Linked DNA regions of Homo sapiens. The protein of the gene in region 1 purifies or fractionates together with the protein of each later gene. This does not show direct contact. Each region holds a gene or a part of one and is shown on either strand. Other genes may lie near its edges. The genes, in order: LRRC57 and INF2.

The links.
Region 2: the proteins of LRRC57 (region 1) and INF2 purify together in Homo sapiens (co-immunoprecipitation; one large-scale study listed by IntAct). This does not show direct contact.

The regions. Positions count from the first base shown.
Region 1 is NC_000015.10:42,538,479-42,542,293, forward strand, and holds part of LRRC57 (leucine-rich repeat-containing protein 57), read right to left. Parts: 3' UTR 1,134-3,815; coding exon of another isoform or gene 1,110-1,133; 3' UTR 1-1,109.
Region 2 is NC_000014.9:104,702,922-104,706,736, reverse strand, and holds part of INF2 (inverted formin-2), read right to left. Parts: intron 3,633-3,815; coding exon 3,517-3,632; intron 3,443-3,516; coding exon 3,283-3,442; intron 2,822-3,282; coding exon 2,788-2,821; coding exon of another isoform or gene 2,784-2,787; exon of another isoform or gene 1,928-2,783; intron 703-1,927; coding exon 561-702; intron 1-560.

The DNA.
Region 1 (3,815 bases):
AACTCCTAGGTTCAAGGGATCCTCCAGCCTCAGGCCTCCTCAATAGCTGGGACTATAGATGCCTGCCTCTGCCTGGCTCCATTTTTTTATCCTTTTAATGTAGTGTCCACTCCAAGCCTTCTATTTCTGTACAACTTGTAAAATTCTACTTTCATGCCTTATAGATGAGATAAATGGCATGATTTACTGAGTGCTTACTCTGTCATGGCCACTATGCTAAGTGCTTTTATATAGTTTTTTGCAACATACCTGAGAGGTAGGAGCTATTCCCTATATTTACAAGTGAGACGAAATTGCTCAAATTCATAAAGCTAATAAATGACGGACTCTGTATTCAAACCTGGATCTTTCTGACTCCAGGGCCCATAATTTTAATATACTACATTGCCTTCCAAACCAAGCTGTAAAAAATTTGGGTGACTTGGGCCAGATGTGGTGGCTCACACCTGTAATCCCAGCACTTTGGGAGGTAAGGCAGGATTGCTTGAGCCCAGGAGTTTGGGGCCAGCCTGGGGAACACAGGAAGACCCCGTCTTTCTAAAAAATTAAAAATTAGCTGAGTGTGGTGGCAGATAACCTGTAGCTCCAGCTACTTAAGAGGCTGAGGTGGGAGGAGATAGCTTGAGCCCAGGAGATCAAGGCATTTGTGAGCTGTGATCATGCCACTGCACTTCAGCCTGGGCAATAGAGCAAGACCCTGTCTCAAAAAATACATATAGGCTGGGCGTGGTGGCTAACACCTGTAATCCCAGCACTATGGGAAGCCAAGGCAGGGGGATCACCTGAGGCCAGGAGTCTGAGATAAGCCTGGCTAACATAGTGAAACCCCATTTTACTAAAAATACAAAAATTAGCTGGGCGTGGTGGTGGGCACCTGTAATCCCAGCTATTCAGGAGGCTGAGGCAGGAGAATTGCTAGAACTCAGGAAGTGGAGGTTGCAGTGACCCGAGATTGTGCCACTGCATTCCAACCTGGGCGAAACAGACAGCCTCTGTCTCAAAAAAAAAAAAAAAAAAAAAGAGACTTAAAAGCCAGGCAGTGGCTCACACCTGTAATCTCAATACTTTGGGAGGCCAAGATGGGAGGATCACTTGAGTCCAGTTTAAGACTAGCCCAGGCAACACAGCAAGATCTGTCGCAAAAAAAGAAAAAAAAAATTAGGTGACTTGGACTAGTGGCCAGATTCAAATCTGGGTCTTTAGACCACAAGCTAGTTTACTTGATTAGCTCATATTTAAATCTAAATCTTGTTTGCTGTAACTTTGGGCATATTACTGTATATAGCCCTTGCCCTCAAAGAGTTAGTCTATCATGAAAGATAAATATAGAATGTGAGAAGTGCTATAGTAACAGATGGGTGAGCAGTTAATTCGGCTTAGACGCAGGAAAGAGGCTTAGACATACAGAATGAGCATATTAATTAAGAGAGGGCAGGCTGGGCACGTTAGCTCACGCCTGCAATTCCCAGCATTTTGGGAGGCCAAGGCAGGTGGATCAACTGAGGTCAGGAGTTTGAGATCAGCCTGACCAACATGGTGAAACCCCGTCTCTACTAAAAATACAAAAATTAGCCAGGTGTGGTGGCACCTGCCTGTAATCCCAGCTACTCAGGAGGCTGAGGCAGGAGAATCACTTGAACCCGGGAGGCGGAGGTTGCAGTGAGCCAAGATCGCGCCATTGTACTCCAGCGTGGGCAAGAGTGAGCCTCTGGACCAAAAAAAAAAAAAAAAAGGGCATTCCCAACTGAGTGAACAATACAGTTGGCCCTAAGTATCCATGGGTTCCACATCTGTGGATTCAACTGCAGGTCAGAAATATTTGAGCGGGAAAATGCCTCAAATTTCTAAAAAACAAAACCTTAATTTAGCATGCATCAAATACTATGTTGAATCTATGCAAATGAAGTTATGTGTAGGCATATTAGGTATTATAAGTAATCTAGAGATAATTTAAAGTATCAGGAAGATACTATGTCATTTTGTATAAGGGACTTGAGCATCATGGACTTGGTATCCATGGAGGTATTGAAACCAATCCTCCATGGACACTGAGGGACAAGCTGTATAAAGGAGGTCAGAAAAGACTGCACTGTGGGTTTAGAGAGAATAATCTGATATGGGTGGGCAGGCAAATGAGAGTGAAGAAAGGGCAATAAGTCTAGGCCCAAATTGTGAAGGGTGGTAGTTGTGGATTCTGATAAGAGTGTGGATTAAACTCCAATTAATAATTAAATGGGAACATTTAAATTGTTAAATGTATAAGTTCTGGCCAGGCGTGGTGGCTCACGCCTGTAATCCCAGCCCTTTGGGAGACCAAGGCGGGTGGATCACCTGAGGTCAGGAGTTCGAGACTAGCCTGGCCAACATGGTGAAACCCCATCTCTACTAAAATACAAAAAATTAGCAGGGCGTGGTGGCGTGCGCCTGCCTGTAGTACCAGCTACTCAGGAGGCTGAGGCAGGAGAATTGCTTGAACCTGGGAGGCAGAGGTTGCAATGAGCCAAGATCGCACCACTGCACTCCAGCCTGGGTGAAAGAATGAGACTCCGTCTCAGAAAAAAAAAAAAAATGTATAAGTTCTGATTTATTAGATGAGAAGTACTGATAAAACACAGAAATGTTAATTGTTCAGTAGATCAATAAGATTAATAAACATTAAAATTTAGAAAAAACAAAACTCCTAAACTGGTATGGATAAACTAGTACCCCTTTCAAAGTGAGAAATAGAAAATGACATATGGGAGGCTGGGTGTGTTGGCTCCCACCTGTAATCCCAGCACTTTGGGAGGCTGAGGTGGGTGGATCACCTGAAGCCAGGAGTTCAAGACCAGTCTGGCCAACACGGTGAAACCCTGTCTCTACTAAAAATACAAAAATGAGCTGGGTGTGGTGGTGCATGCCTGTAATCCCAATTACTCAGGAGAATGAGGCACAAGAATCAGTTGAACCTGGTAGGTGGAGGTTGCAGTGAGCCAAGATAGTGCTACTGCGCTCCAGTCTGGAATGAAATTCTGTCTCAAAAAAGAAAGTAACATATGGGAAAAAGAGAACACCTAGACCAGATTTACGTCAGAAAGATTTTGTCGTGGAGGTTAAATAGTAGGTTTGTGTGATCTCTTGACTTAATGGATAAGCTAGGTTTAACCATTATTGAGAACTGTTGATATATAGTTAGTAATAGCTTTGTGACTAAGATAAAATCAGAAAATGACCAAAATGGTAGCTTTCTAAATGTTGATGTTAGTGGTAGTCTGAAATCCTCTACCTTTGTACCTTCAGATTCTTTTTTTTTTTTTTTTGAGATGGAGTCTGGCTCTGTCACCCAGGCTGGAGTGCAGTGGCAAGATCTCCGCTCACTGCAAGCTCCGCCTCCCGGGTTCACGCCATTCTCCTGCCTCAGCCTCCCATGTAGCTGAGACTACAGGCGCCCACCACTACGCCCGGCTAATTTTTTGTATTTTTAGTAGTGACAGGGTTTCACCGTGTTAGCCAGGATGGTCTCGATCTCTTGACCTCGTGATCTGCCCGCCTCGGCCTCCCAAAGTGCTGGGATTACAGGCGTGAGCCACCGCGCCCGGCCTTTTTTTTTTTTTTTGAGACGCAGTCTCACTCTATTGCCCAGGCTGGAGTTCAATGGCACCCTCACTGCAAGCTCCGCCTCCCGGTTTCAAGCAATTCTCCTGCCTCAGCCTCCTGAGTATCTGGGATTACAGGCACGTGCCACCACACCCAGCTAATTTTTGTATTTTTAGTAGAGATGGGGTATCACCACATTGGTCAGGCTGGTCTTGAACTCCTGACCTCGTGATCCACCC
Region 2 (3,815 bases), on another chromosome or scaffold:
ATTATGGGATGTTAAACAGAACCACTGGTCTCTACCTACTCAATGCCAACAGCACCCCCTGCCCAGCCGTGGCAGCCAAAAATGTCTTCAGATGTTGCCAGATGCCACCTGGGGACACAACTGCCCCCAGATGAGAGCTGCAAGGTTCAGGGAATGAGGGGAAGGCCTGAGCTTGACGAGAATTCAGCCTCTTAGCCCCTCACCAAGCCCTGAGGCCTCTGAAGCCCACCTGATGGGGACTGGGCAGCTGGGGCCCAGGACAGTAAGGCCGGCTGTGGGCCGCACTGGTCTTTGGAGCCCCGTCCTTCTGGGTCCTGTGGCCCTGGCTTTGCCCCCAGGGCCCAGCCCGGCCCCCAGGCTGCCCGCTCTAGGCGCCACCTCCCTTTCCAACCCCTGGGTCCTTGCTGCTCCCTGGAGTCTCACCCCAAAGCTGGCACCATGGCCCAGGTCACAGCAGGGTCTGACCAGGGCAGGGAGGACCGTTCCAGGCCCAGCCTCTGGACCTCAGGGCCACAGCCTGCCCTGGAGGGCTGCCCTCCGCCCTGCAGCCCCCAGCCCACCTTGTGGAACAGGGAGGCAAAGACCTCCTGGTGGCTGCTCATGTCGACCCCGCCAGAGACTCGCAGCAGCTCCTCCTCGTCCTCGGCCTTAGCCTCCTCGAAAGCCTCCAGCTGGATCAGCAGGTCGGCATCCTCCAGGTCTCTGTGCAGGAGGGGCCAGGTGGGCTAAGCCTGCTGCTGCCACCACCAACACGCAGGCGGGGCAGCCTGGGTCAGCGCCAGTGTACCAGCCCCGCTCAGCCCACCTGGGACTCTGAGCCAGGCCATAGCCAGCTGTGGCTGACATGTGACCCACATAGCCAGGGATAGCGACCTAAGAGTGGCAGCTCCCAGGTCAGTGCCTTGCGCCCTGCCAGGCTGCCCCCGGGTCACCAGGCACCCGCACGCCCCTGGGGAAGGGGAAGGGCGAGTATGCCCACTCCCATCGAGTAACGTGCACCAAGGCCTGGGGAGGTGGCACACAATGGAACCGGGCCGTGACCTTGGGGGAGGGAAGGCCCTCCCCTGGGCGCTGCGTGACTACAGTGAAGACCACACCTGAGGTGGGTCCACAGGGCTGCATGGATACAGGAGGGGCGGGGCTCTGGCCTGAGCAGGAGGAAACTTAGTGTTCACTGGGCCTAGGACTTGCCAGTCATCTCAGTCTGGTCAATGAGCACAGCCCTCCGCAGGCAGGGCCGGCCCCCTTCAGCCCACACTGGTGGGGCACAGGCACCCATGTGGGCAAACTTTGCTGAGGCCATTTCTGTTTTTTTTTTTTGAGATGGAGTCTCGCTCTGTCACCCATGCTGGAGTGCAGTGGTACGATCTCAGCTCACTACAACTTCTACCTCCTGGGATCCAATGATTGTCCTGCCTCAGCCTCCTGAGTAGTTGGGATTGCAGGCACATGCCACCACGGCCAGCTAATTTTTGTACTTTTAGTAGAGATGGGGTTTCACCATGTTGGCCAAGCTGGTCTCGAACTCCTGACCTCAGGTGATCTGCCCATCTTGGCCTCCCAAAGTGCTGGAATTACAGGCGTGAGCCACCGCGCCTGGCCCCTGAGGCCATTTCAACACCAGGCATTCTAGCCCTGGGCTCCTCCAAGCTGATTTCCCTGGGTGTAAGGACACCCCCCTGAGTACAGTCCTGACTGAGGCCTGGATAGAGCTTCTCAGCTATGTGGGTTCCCAGCAGGGCTGCAAGATTTAGCAAATGAAACTACAGAGTACCTGTTCAATTTGAATTTCAGACAAACAATGAATAACTTTTGGCATAAGTATATCCCATGCAACATCTGGGATATACTTACACCAAAATATCGTCTGTTGTGTATCTGAAACCTGAATGAACTGCATGTCCCATACAGTACCTGGCAACCCTAGTTTCTTTTTTAAAAAATTTTTATTTTAGACTCGGGGGTACATGTGCGTGTTTGCCACATGGTACACTGTGTAACGTAGGCGATTTGCCTTCTAGGGCAGTGGTCCCCAGCCTTTTTGGCACCAGGGACTGGTTTTGTGGAAGACAATTTTTCCATAGACTGGGGTGACGGGAATGGTTTAGGGATAAAACTGTTCCACCCCCGATCATCAGGCATTAGATTGTCATGAGGAGCGCGCAGCCTGGATCCCTTGCGCGCGTGCGTGCGCTGGAGAATCTAATGCAGTGCTGATCTGACATGAGGTGCAGCTCAGGCAGGAATGCCCGCCCACCGCTCACTTCCTGCTGCGTGGCCCGGTTCCAATAGGCCAGGTACCGGTCCGCAGCCTGGCGGTTGGGGACCCTTGTTCTAGTGGGCCTGACACCAAGTAGCGACGAACACTGTACCCTGTAGGTAGTTTTTCAACTCTCGCCCTGGAGCCCGTGTCCCTGTCTCCATCTTGCGTCCACGTGAACCACCCTGTAGTTCCCTCTTATTGGCATTTCATTTTCTGTTTCTGGGTTGGTTCACTTAGGATCACGGCCTCCAGCTCCATCCACGGTGTGCAAAGGATATGAGCTCATTCTGTCCTTTCTATGGCTGCTGCAACCCTAGTTTCTGTGGGCAGCTGCCAGGGACAGTGAGCTGGATTCTAGCCTGAGACCTGGCTTCTGGCTGGACCCCTGGGGTTACTCCGAGGGAGCCACCTCCCTGCCATCTGGAGGTGCTGCTTAGGTGAGGTGGCTGGGAGCCAAAGGGCAGGTGGGCCTGGCCTTGGGAGCAGGAGGGGGAGCCGGCAGGACCGCTACAGTGGGGACTCACCGCAGGCGAGCCAGGACGTCCAGCAGCTGCAGCCCTGGGAAGGGACGGACAGGGTCAGAGGGTTCGGAGGCCACTCCCCGCCTTCCCCATTTCACTTCTGCCACCCAGAGCACCTGACCCTGCCCTGCTGCACTCATGGGACACCAGAGACCTGAGGCTCTGGAGGGGAGACATCATGCTGGACACACAGTGATGCTTACTCAGGGCTCACTGCCAGAACTGGCAGGGCTAGAACGAGGTCTCAGGCCCCCTGTCCGGCTCCACTGCCTGGCCAGTCTCACAAATGAGAACGGTCCAGGGTTGACCCCCAGGCGTTCTGAGGCCTGTGTCCATTGAAGGGGCAGGTGGTGGCAGGCCCGAGATGGCGCCTTCCTCTGGGGCCCTGGGTCGGGGGCAGCTTTTGTGGCGCTCCCACCTCCCCAGGTGGATGCAGCATGGGATGCACTGGCCAAGAGGCGGGCAGGAGCGGGCATGCGGCCCAGGGCAGGTGCTTACCGATAAACTCGTTCCGCAGCTGGGTGCGCGCGCGCAGGTCCTCGGGGCCCAAGATGACGGCGTTGATCACGCTAAGCAGGGTGACCACGTAGGGCACGTTGTCGCTGCCGGAGAGCTCGTTCATGACAATGCTGAAGCGGTACTGCTGGCTGCACACCGTCTGTGGGGAGGGCGGGGTCAGGGCACACCCAGGCAGGGAGCCCCATGTGCCCAGGCCCAGGCCCTGCCGCCCACCTTGTAGTGGTCCAGGGCGTCCAGGGTCAGCACGTGGCCCTCGGGAGAGTAGATGCACAGGGCAGCCAGTAGCTCAAACACCTGCTTCTTCACCATCACGTTGGATGTGTCCAGGGCTGCCAGGGTGGAGTGGGCAGGCTCAGCAGGGCCAATGCACCCCTTCCCATGCCTGTGCAGCTGGGCTCAGGGCTGGGGCTCTGGGCCTGGCAGGCAGACGCCAGGGGGTGCCGGGCACTTGTCTGTGGCCCACAGCAGTGGGCTGGGACCCAACGAGGTGCCCCACTCCTCGGTGTCCTGGC